2 separate regions of the Homo sapiens genome follow, and region 2 is linked to region 1. The links come from fine-mapping of genetic effects on gene expression. A gene starts in region 1. The other region holds a variant in brackets. All regions are shown on one strand. Distances are from middle to middle. Region 1 holds the start of GSTT2B (glutathione S-transferase theta 2B). Region 2 overlaps GSTT4 (glutathione S-transferase theta 4).

Region 1 (5,371 bases):
GAGAGAGGGGTCAGGGTCTGCCCAAAGCCCATCCTGGTTCCCACCATCATCCTATCATCACCAGTCCTTGGGATTTCTGCTCACCTCTGCTCACTTCTTTCCACTCATAGCCACCAGTAGCTCTCATCTCCTACTCAAACAGGGACAGCCTCCCCCTTCTCCCTGGGTCCTCACACAAGGCAACCAGTGGGATCCTTCTGTAATCTCAATCTGCCCGTACCCTCTCTTGCATAAAGCCTTCCATGGCTCCCCACTGCCCTCATGAGAAAGGCCTCAACACAAAGCCAGCCTTCTCCAGTGCGGTAGCCATCCCCTCCCCACTTTTCACCTCACCTCCTACTACCCCCCACTTATCAAACGGGAATGTGTGTATGAATCCTCCCTGGAATCTGGTTACAGTTTATGCTCCCAATCAGTAAGGTCAGAGTGGGGCCTGAGCCTCTGCATTTCCAACAAGCTCCCTGGTGATGCTGATACTCCCAGTCCATTGACCACACTTTGGATAGGAAGAGTCTACACTTGCTCTACTCAACTTCTCTCCATTCTGTCCTCAAACACACCACGCTTCCTTCCCCACCAGCTGGAGGGGGCTCTGCTCCCAGGCCCCAGAGGTCAAGGCAGACACAGTTAAGGTGTGGAAACCTCCTTATTGCCCGATGGATCCTCCAGAGAGGCGGTCCCTTACTTTCAGCAGGGCGCGTGTCTACCTGTTTCATGCTGTCTCACACACAGGGTGCCACCCCTGTGCTGGGCACTGGGTAAGTGCTCTGTACATATTAATTAGGAGTACTCATTTCAAAAATATGTGTGCCTTTGATAAATAAAAACAGTATGTGCATGTTGTGTTGGTGTGTGCTTCCTTGATTATTACTGAAGTTAAACATGTTTTCATCCATGTATTGACCATTTCTCTTTGTCCTTCAATGAAACCTCTGCTGATTTCCTTCGCTCATTTTTTTCCTGTGTCTTCGTCTGATGAGTTTCTCTTCTTTTTGTTTGTTCGTTTGTTTGTTTTGAGACAGTCTCGCTCAGTGGCCCGGCTGGAGTGCAGTGGTATGATCTCAGCTCACTGAAACCTCTGCCTCCAAGGTTCAAGTGATTCTCCTGTCTCAGCCTCCCGAGTGTGCCACCGCACCCAGCTAATTTTTGTATTTTTAGTAGAGACGGGGCTTCACCGTGTTGCCCAGGCTGGTCTCAAACTCCTGACCTCAACTGATCCGCCCATCTCTGCCTCCCAAAGTACAGGGATTACAGGCGTGAACCACCACACCCTACCTGTCTGATGGGTTTCTAAGAACATCTTAAAGGACATTACTTCCTTCTGACGTATCTTTTACCGAGATCCTTCCCAGTTTTTTGCTTAAGGTTAATCCATTTTTTCCTCCACAAAGTAACCTTGTATATGTATTGGTTTTTTCTTTGTTGAGTTCTCCCACTGTTCTGAGGCTTAGAAAGTCCTTTCATACCCAGACATCAGAGAAACAGATCCCGTGAGAGTAACTGGGATTGCAGGTGTGGGCCAGCATGCCCTGTTATCACTCCCTTTCTCTGAGTCAGCTTTTCTCTCTCAGTCTCGTCTACTCCTCGAACTCAGGAAATGTCACTACAGGTGGCCCCAGCTCCCGTTTACCTCCCCATAGGGAGCTCCTCTCTCCAGTTCCAGTTTCAAAACTCCCAAGGAAGCATTCTGGTTCACTCGCTTGGGCCACTGGCCAGAGGGATGGGATACTCTGAAAGATTCAGCTAGAGTCCCGGGCCCAGCCCTGGACCATCACTGTGCCCCCTGGTGAGATGCCAGGGCTGGGATTCAGGGAGAAGAAAGGAGGTTCCCGGACAGTCATTCCTGCCTCCCGCGGCTGCGGGCTCCCTGCCCCCATCCTGTGCACGAAGTGGGAGCTCCCGCTGTCTGGCAGCTCCCGCTGTCTGGCAGCAGCTGCTCTGCAGGGGACAGTCTGGACGGCAGAAAGTTCATCCTTAACCCCAGCCTTCCAGTCAAGGTTCCCACCAGTTTGGGACACCTGCAAGTGTCACATCCCACTGGGTGAAACTCTAAGATCCCTTTTAGGGGATCCCATTCGCTCCCTCCCTTCCGCCACCATGCAGCGCCGAGAAACAGAGCTCTGAACGAACCCTCAGATGTCCGTGCGCTGGGGCCTTTCCAGGACGGCGGCGCCCAGTCGTTTCTGGGTCAGGGCGACGCCTGGAACTGGGCAGGGTCCCTGGCACCGGGATCCCGAAAAGCAGACCTGCTTCTCCCTGTCCAGCCGGTTCCCCTTCCCCTTGCAGTCGGCCCCCTGCATCCGCGTCCTCCCTGCCAGTCGAGGGTCCCCAGCTCCAACTCCACCCTCCCAGCTGTGCGTTCATAGCGACCGCCCTCCCTGTAGGGACGCACGGATCTGGTGGTGGAGTCTTGGCCGGCAGGACTGGACAGGAACCGAAGGGGCGAGGCGGGTCCGGGGGTGGTGCGCTCCAATTGGGTGCTGTCCCCAGGGGGTGGGGCCTGATCCCCTATTTCCCGGCGCGCCGGGATCCTGCCACAGCTGCTGCCCACACCGCGCTCAGCGCCTTCACTGCCATCCCCGCTGTCCTTGCCGCCCCCGCCATGGGCCTAGAGCTGTTTCTTGACCTGGTGTCCCAGCCCAGCCGCGCCGTCTACATCTTCGCCAAGAAGAATGGCATCCCCTTAGAGCTGCGCACCGTGGATTTGGTCAAAGGTGGGCCCAGCCCGTTTCCCCGCGTGTCCACAAACCCAGTGCACCCCCAGGCCCCCGCCCTGCTCTGCCCTGAGCGTCTCGCCGCCCGCACAGCCCCCTCACCTCCTCCTGCAGCGTCTGCCACCAGAGAATGCTGTGGACTGAGTGGCCTTGGAGGGATCACAGCCTCTCTGAACCTTAGCTTGCCTTCTGAAAAGGAGGATAATGTTACCTTCTGCTCTGTAGGGATGGAAAGAAAATACTGAATGGAGTTGACAGAGTTCTTGCGTGGAATGCACGCATATAAATTCACAAAGCCCAGAAGACCTTGGGAAGAAGGACATGCTGTTGTGAGAATTAAGAGATGGGAAGAGATGAGCCACCCCAGTTTGCCTCCCCTCCCCTGGCCCACCAGAGTCCGGCTAGAAAACTTCTCTTTATCCACCTGCTGCACCTGGCCCCACCCACCAAAGCCCCCCAGCTGCCCCGGAATGTGGCAGGGCAGGGAGGCCCAGCCAGGGAGTGAGGCTGATCCAGGCCTCTAGTCCCAGACCTTGCTGTTTCTCAGGGCTGTGGGGCTCCGCTTGGGGAGGAGGAGGGAGGGTGTAGAGGTGCAGCGTTTTTATTCTGAAGACCTTTTCTGACTTCTTCCTCTTCAGGGCAGCACAAGAGCAAGGAGTTCTTGCAGATCAACAGCCTGGGGAAACTGCCGACGCTCAAGGATGGTGATTTCATCTTGACCGAAAGGTGCCCTCCTTCCCTCACCCCTCACCGCATCCGGAGCCCATGTGACCTTGGCTCTCCCCACTGGCCCCGGGCCCCAGTGGCCCTCCCATACCCCATGGGGCAGCGAGGGAGGGGAAAGGCGAGGGATCTGGCCGGGCGCGGTGGCTCACGCCTGTCATCCCGGCACTTCGGGAGGCCAAGGCGGGCGGATCACGAGGTCAGGAGACCGAGACCATCCTGGCTAACACCGTGAAACACCGTCTCTACTAAAAATGGAAAAAAAATTAACCGGGCGTGGTGGCGGGCGTCTGTAGTCCCAGCTACTCTGGAGGCTGAGGCAGGAGAATGGTGTGAACCCAGGAAGCGGAGCTTGCAGTGTGCTGAGATCGCGCCACTGCACTCCAGCCTGGGCGACAGAGCTAGACTCCGTCTCAAAAAGGCCGGGCGCGGTGGTTTACGCCTGTAATCCCAGCACTTTGGGAGGCCGAGGTGGGCGGATCACGAGGTCAGGAGATCGAGACCATCCTGGGTAACACGGTGAAACCCTGTCTCTACTAAAAATACAAAACATTAGCAGGGCGTGGTGGCGGCCGCCTGTAGTCCCAGCTACTGGGGAGGCTGAGGCAGGAGAATGGCGTGAACCCAGGAGGCGGAGCTTGCAATGAGCAGAGATAGCACCACTGCACTCCAGCCTGGGTGACAGAGGGAGCCCACTCCAGCCTGGGCGACAGAGGGAGACTCCGTCTCAAAAAAAAAGGAAAGAAAGAAAGGAGAGGTATCTGGGGAGAAGGTACAGCTTGGGGTGTGACCGGGATGAGCAGGGGCTGACAGAACATGTCCCCCCACCTCTCATCTTCCAGCCTTTTCTGAGCCGCAGGGCCTCTCCACTCCCAGACTGAAGGGTATTAGAAGAGAAGACAAGGGAACATTTTTCCACTGTTGCGCATTTGTTCAACAAATGCTAGCTGAAAAGAGCCTCTAGTGACTTGTTGCAGACTACCCAATCTACCCAGGCCGGGCCTAGAGGCCAATGCCATGGCCCAAGGGCACAGCTCATGGTGAGGTCCAGCTGCTGGGCAGGAAAAGGACAAGAGGTCAGGTGGCTGCAGAAGTGATGGCTGGGGGCCTGTCAGACGGGGGCCAAAGACATTCCTCCCCTCGTGATCCCTGACCCAAGCGCGTGGACATGCAAGGGACTCCACGGAGCATCCACTGTGTGCCAGCCCCATGCAGGGTTCCAGGGGTCCAGGGAGCCTATTCTGAGCTGCACCGCCTCGGACAAGTCACTTGACCATTCTGACCTTGAGTTTTCTCTTGTGCTAAAAGGCTAACAGGAGTGTCTACCTCACAGGGCGGCTGCTGGCATATCACAGAGATGAGGTTCTCAAAATGCAAAGCAGAAGGTCCAGCCAAGAGTCGGTGCCCAAGGCAACAAAGACAGGAGGAGACTCGTAGGAGGAGGGGGTGGTGTTGGGGAGCTGGAGATGGAGGGCGAGGCTGGAGGGCAGTCCTTCAAATGCAGAGAAGCCCCCGGGCCCCACTGGCAGATGGGAGCAGTTAGGGGTAAATGCCTGGTGCCAGTGTCCTTATAGCCACTGCCCATTTGTTCCCAGCTCGGCCATCCTGATTTACCTGAGCTGTAAGTACCAGACGCCGGACCACTGGTATCCATCTGACCTGCAGGCTCGTGCCCGTGTTCATGAGTACCTGGGCTGGCATGCCGACTGCATCCGTGGCACCTTTGGTATACCCCTGTGGGTCCAGGTGAGGAGAGCCATCTGGAGAGTGATTGGCCATCAGGGAGTAGTTGGCAGTAGGCCGGGGCCATAGACTGACCCACTCTCTGCCCCCATCAGGTGTTGGGGCCACTCATTGGGGTCCAGGTGCCCGAGGAGAAGGTGGAACGCAACAGGACTGCCATGGACCAGGCCCTGCAATGGCTGGAGGACAAG
Region 2 (5,371 bases), 37 kb before region 1:
CTTCCCAACCCTGGCCAGTTGCTGATCCCAAAGATAACAGGGGAGGAAGTTTCAGCTGAGAAGATGGAGCATGCAGTGGAAGAGGTGAAGAACAGCCTGCAGCTCTTTGAGGAGTATTTTCTGCAGGATAAGATGTTCATCACCGGGAACCAAATCTCACTGGCTGACCTGGTGGCCGTGGTGGAGATGATGCAGGTGTGGAGTGGATTGGAGGAGGGTTAGACCCTGGGCAGAGGTAGGACTCCTCTGTGACCAATGGGGCCATCACTTGAGGATAGGCTGGTGAGGCGGGAAAGGCAGGCAGAGCTGCCATGGGGGCTGCGGGAACCAGGCCTGGGGGCCTGGACTCAATCGGGGCAACAGGAAGCACAGAATGTTATGAATCAGGAAGGATCACAGTTCTCCACACTTGACAAAGATTCTTCGGTGTGGGAGGACCCGGAGGGTGAGCCTGGGATAGAGAAGAACACTGCATTTCCTGCTCAATCCACCGGCATCCCAGATACCTCCTCCTCTTGCTGGACTCTCCAGGAAATGTTCACTGGCTTCCTGGGTGTCCTTCTGGCCCTGCCTGTTTCCCAGAGCTCCAGACAGACAGCTCTGGAGGACAGCTCTCGTGGCTGGGTCTGAGGGGCATCCACTGTGCATTTGGAGGCACACCTGAGTGTGGGGCATTTATGTGGCCTCTACATGCAGGGGAGGGTGACCAGTTCTGCTTGTCAAGACACTGGCCAGGGTCTCAACTGGCCATCCTGCACACCAGCTAGGGCACTGCACACTGACCAAAGAGACTAATTTGCATATCAGCCAGAGATATGCCCGAGAGGAGGGACCTGGGGTCCTGGTGGATTGACCAGAAAATGCAGTATTCTTTTCCTTATCCCAGAGATCTCTGGCTGATATGAAAATTAGTCTCCTTGGTCTGTTTGCAGGGCAGACCAGCACCAGGAAAAATCATTCTGGCCTGCCCCAAGGGTTCAGCCATATGCTTCGTCCCCACCCCTTACATTTCACCCACACACACCCATTCTTGGGCTTCCCAAAGATCTTGGGTGCAAACCAAACTCTTAGTAAGCCAGCGAAACTGCAGGGTAGACTGCCCGCCAGGTCTCCCATCCTAGCCCCTGAGCTTGATCACAGTGGGAGGCTAAACATGGAGGAAAAAACCTGAGTTCTCTCCCTCATCCACATATACACACCTGGGATAAGGGGTCTCCCTGGAAGAAGGCAGGATTCATGCGAGGTCGCAGGCTGGAGAAGTGGGAAGTGCCTGGGCCAGGAGCCCTCTCAGCATGGTTCAGAAGGCTTGGAGCAAGAAGACCAGTGACTGAGGACTCTGAGGGATTCTGGATCCTCCATCCCCACCTACATCTATTACATAGTCTGTGACCCCTTGCTCAGGCCTTGGGGGTCAGCAGCCTAATTCTTTGCATAGGTAGATGTTAGGGACGTGGGCCTGAGGCTGTGGGAGAGGACCCAGGTGGGGCTGGTCCCCAGGCTGACCACGTCTTTGTCTTCGTCTATCTACAGCCCATGGCAGCCAACTATAATGTCTTCCTCAACAGCTCCAAGCTAGCTGAGTGGCGTATGCAGGTGGAGCTGAATATTGGCTCTGGCCTCTTTAGGGAGGCCCATGATCGACTAATGCAGTTGGCCGACTGGGACTTTTCAACATTGGATTCAATGGTCAAGGAGAATATTTCTGAGTTGCTGAAGAAGAGCAGGTGACCCTAGGCGCAGCCTGTCCCGCAGGGCCTGGCTGGCTTAGCAATCTGAGCCACCTTCCTTAAAGGAAATGTTAAAAAAAAAAAAACAAAAAAACAAAAAAACAACTGTTCTTTGCCTAATAAAGAACTGGAACAACCATCACAGCTGCTGAGCAGCAGACAGTTGGCATATGCATAGGGTCTGATGTGGGAGTGGGTGGTGGTTACAGATCCTTCCAGTTTCCAAAAAGAATTTTAAAAGTAAAGGGTTAAATATGGTTACATTGTGAGTAATAATAGTTGGTGACTTCAATACCCCACTTTCAGTAATAGAAAAACTACAGAAGACCATCAAGGAAATAGGGAATTTGAAAAGCACGATTAACCAATCGCATACACTAGACATGAACAGAACGTTCCACCCGACAGGAGCAGAATAAGCATTCTTCTAAAGAGCACATGGAATATTCTCCAGTATAGAGCATATATTTGGTCCTAAGTCTCAAATTTAAGATGATTGAAATCACACAAAGTATGTTCTCTGGACACAGTGGAATAAAGTTAAAAATCAAGAACAGAAGGAAAACTAGAAAACTCACAAGCACATAGAAATTAAACAGCACACTCTTAAACAACAAATGGGTTAAAGAAGAAATCACAAGGGACATCAAAAAGTATCCTGAACAAATAAAAATGAAAACACAACATGCCCAGATTTATAGGATGCAGCAGAAGCAGTTCTAAGAGCAAAATTTATAGCTGTAAACACATAAGTTAAAGAAGAATGATCTTGAATCAATAACCTAACTTTACACCTTAAGGAACTAGAAAAATAAGAGCAAACTCAACCCAACACCACTAGAAAACAGGAAATAATAAAGATTAGAATGGAGATAAATGAAATAGAAAATAGAAAAGCAATAAAATCAATAAAACCAAAAATTGGATCTTTGCAAAGATCAACAAAATTGGCAAACCTTTACTTAGAATAGCCAAGTGAAAAAAATAAGGGTCAAATTATTCACCAAGAAAGAAAGTGGAGGCTGGGTGCAATGGCTCACACCTGCAATCCCAGCACTTTGGAAAGCAGAGGCAGAAGGATCACTTGAGGCCAGGAGATTGA[G/T]AACAGCCTGGGTAACACAATGAGACTTTTTTCTAAAAAATATATTTTTTAAAAAAATTAGCTTGGTGTGGTGGTGCAAGCCTGTAGTCTTAGCTAACTGGGTGGCCGAGGTGGGAGGATCACTCGAGTCCAAGAGTTCAAGGTTACACCGAGCTATGATTGCACCACTGCACTCCAGCCTGGGCACATAGAAGAACCTTATCTCAAAAAACAAACAAAAACAAAAATGAAAAAATGAAATGGAAACCAGAAAGAAAGAAAATGGAGACATCACATTGGTCATAGAGAAATTCAAAAGTTTAGAAATACTATGAATAACTATATGTGGACAATTTAGACAACCTAGATGAAATGGGAAAATTTTAGAAACACACAATCTACCAAAACTGACTTAAGAAGAAAGATAAAATTTTAATAGGCCTGTAACAAATAAAGAGATTAAAATATTAATTATTTTTAAAAATTCCACAAAGAAAAGCCCAGGACCAGATGGCTTCCCTGGTGAATTCAACCAAAAGCTTGAAGAACTAACACAAAGCCTTCACAAACTCTTCCAAAAAAATAAAACAGGAAGAAATATTTTTCAACTCATACTATGAGGCCAGAATTACTCTGATACCAAAGACAGAAAAAGACATTACAAGAAAATAAAGTTACAAAGCAATATCCTTATAAATATAGATGTAAAAATCCTCAGCAAAATATTAGCAAATCAAATCCAGCAGCATATTAAAAGGATCATACACCTTGACCAGGTAGGATTTATCCCAGGAGTACAAATGCAGTTCAACATACAAAAATCAATCAGTGTAGCATACCATGTTAATAGAAAGTCACATGATCATCCTAATGCACAGAAGGCATTTGACAAAACCTAACATCCTTTTACGATAAAATTACTCAGCAGATGAAGACGAGAAAGGAACTTCCTCAACTTGACAAAAAGCATCTATGAAAAACCTATAACTAACACCATACTTCATCCATTGTGAAAGATCAAGCGTTTCCCCCCTAAGATCAGGAACAGGACAAGAATGTTCATTCACACTACTTCTACTTATTAGGGCAATTAGGCAAGAAAAAGGAACAAGGTGGAATCTAGATCAGAAAGAAAGAAGTAAAACCATCTCTATTCACAGATGACATTACAGAAATTCTTAACTCACTTAAAAACCATTAGAGCTAATAAACAAGTTCAAGGCTGGGCACGGTGGCTCACACCTGTAATCCCAGCACTTTGGGAGGCCAAGGCGGGCAGATCATGAGGTCAGAAGTTTGAGACCAGCCTGTCCAATATGGTGAAACCCCGTCTCTACTAAAAATACAAAAATTAGCCGGGCGTGGTGGCGCATGCCTGTAGTCCCAGCTACTCAGGAGGCAAAGGCAGGAGAATCACCAGAGCCCAGGAGGTGGAGGTTGCAGTGTGCCAAGATCAAGCCACTGCACTCCAGCCTGGGTGACTGACTGAGACTCCATCTCAATAAAATAAAATAAGTTCAGCAAGGTTGCAGGGTACAAGATTAATACACAAAAATCAATAGTATACATTTGCAATAAAGGATGAAAAACAAAATTAAAACCACACTTCCATTTATAATACCATCAAAAAGAATAAAATAGAATAAATTTAACCAAAGAAAAGCAACATTTCAACACAGCAAACTACAATGTGCTGTTGAAAGAAATTAAAGAAGCGCCACCAAGCAATCTGACCTGAGAAAACATGCAGGTTCAACAGAATGAGTCCTGCTCTTCAGCAAGCACCCATCTTGTGTTCAAGCTGGGTCTATGAGGCAAGTTTGGCAACATAGACATGGACATGCCACCAAATCTGTAATGTAGAAAAGGCCAAGGGAAGGTGGATCAATCATTGGAAACATTCAACAATCCATGGAAGAAATGTTAAAAATAGAATCTCAGGGTCTGATGAAGTTGGAATATCACTCTTCTATGTATTTCGGTTGGAATCTGTTGAACGATTGGATAAAGTAAAAGTATAGGGAATTATTAGGTAGCATTAAATGTGTAATAAATGTAAAGAGAGGGTGCAAGTGCATACAAGGAAGTGTACGCTACTGGGTTTCTGTTGAATTGTTCATGGAAGACCATCAGCAGTTCAATTCCAAAAGCTTGTCTTAAAATTAGCTGGGTGTGGTGGCGTATGCCTGTAATCCCAGCTACTCAGGAGGCTGAGGCAGGAGAATCGCTTGAATCCGGGAAGCAGAGATTGCAGTGAGCCAAGATCGCACCACTGTACTCCAGCCTGGTGACAGAGCGATACTCTGACTCAAAAAAAAAACAAACAAACAAAAAAAAAACTTGTCTTGAGGGACTACGCCAGCCTTAACAGCTACAAACATCATGGAGGAAGCTGTCTGCCCATTAGAAGCCCAGAGCCCAGAGGGACAGACTAGAGCAAATCCTCTCCCTCATTGGAGCTAGATGGGAACACAAATCTATCTGATAACTAACATGCAATTTTACATCTCTTACCTTGTTTAATCCTCACAACCACCCTGATGAGTAGTAGTATTATGCCCAT

The links. PIP is the estimated chance that this variant, and not a neighbour inherited with it, causes the effect. A credible set is the group of variants that fine-mapping cannot tell apart.
Region 2: its variant is the best candidate, but not a certain one, in a credible set for the expression of GSTT2B in caudate (GTEx, PIP 0.81).

Annotation. Positions count from the first base shown.
Region 1 is chr22:23,958,363-23,963,733 of GRCh38, reverse strand. It overlaps GSTT2B (glutathione S-transferase theta 2B), which reads left to right and starts at 2,539. Exons shown (of 5, transcript NM_001080843.4): 1 at 2,539-2,714; 2 at 3,353-3,440; 3 at 5,033-5,183; 4 at 5,276-5,371. The coding sequence starts at 2,603. RefSeq lists an enhancer at 3,653-4,318.
Region 2 is chr22:23,994,899-24,000,269 of GRCh38, reverse strand. GSTT4 (glutathione S-transferase theta 4) reads left to right here. Exons shown (of 5, transcript NM_001358664.2): 4 at 19-195; 5 at 1,531-1,869. The coding sequence ends at 1,728. Among named protein-coding and RNA genes, the nearest start is that of GSTT4, 7.9 kb to the left of the region's middle. The variant G/T (reference allele first, on the strand shown) is at 2,830.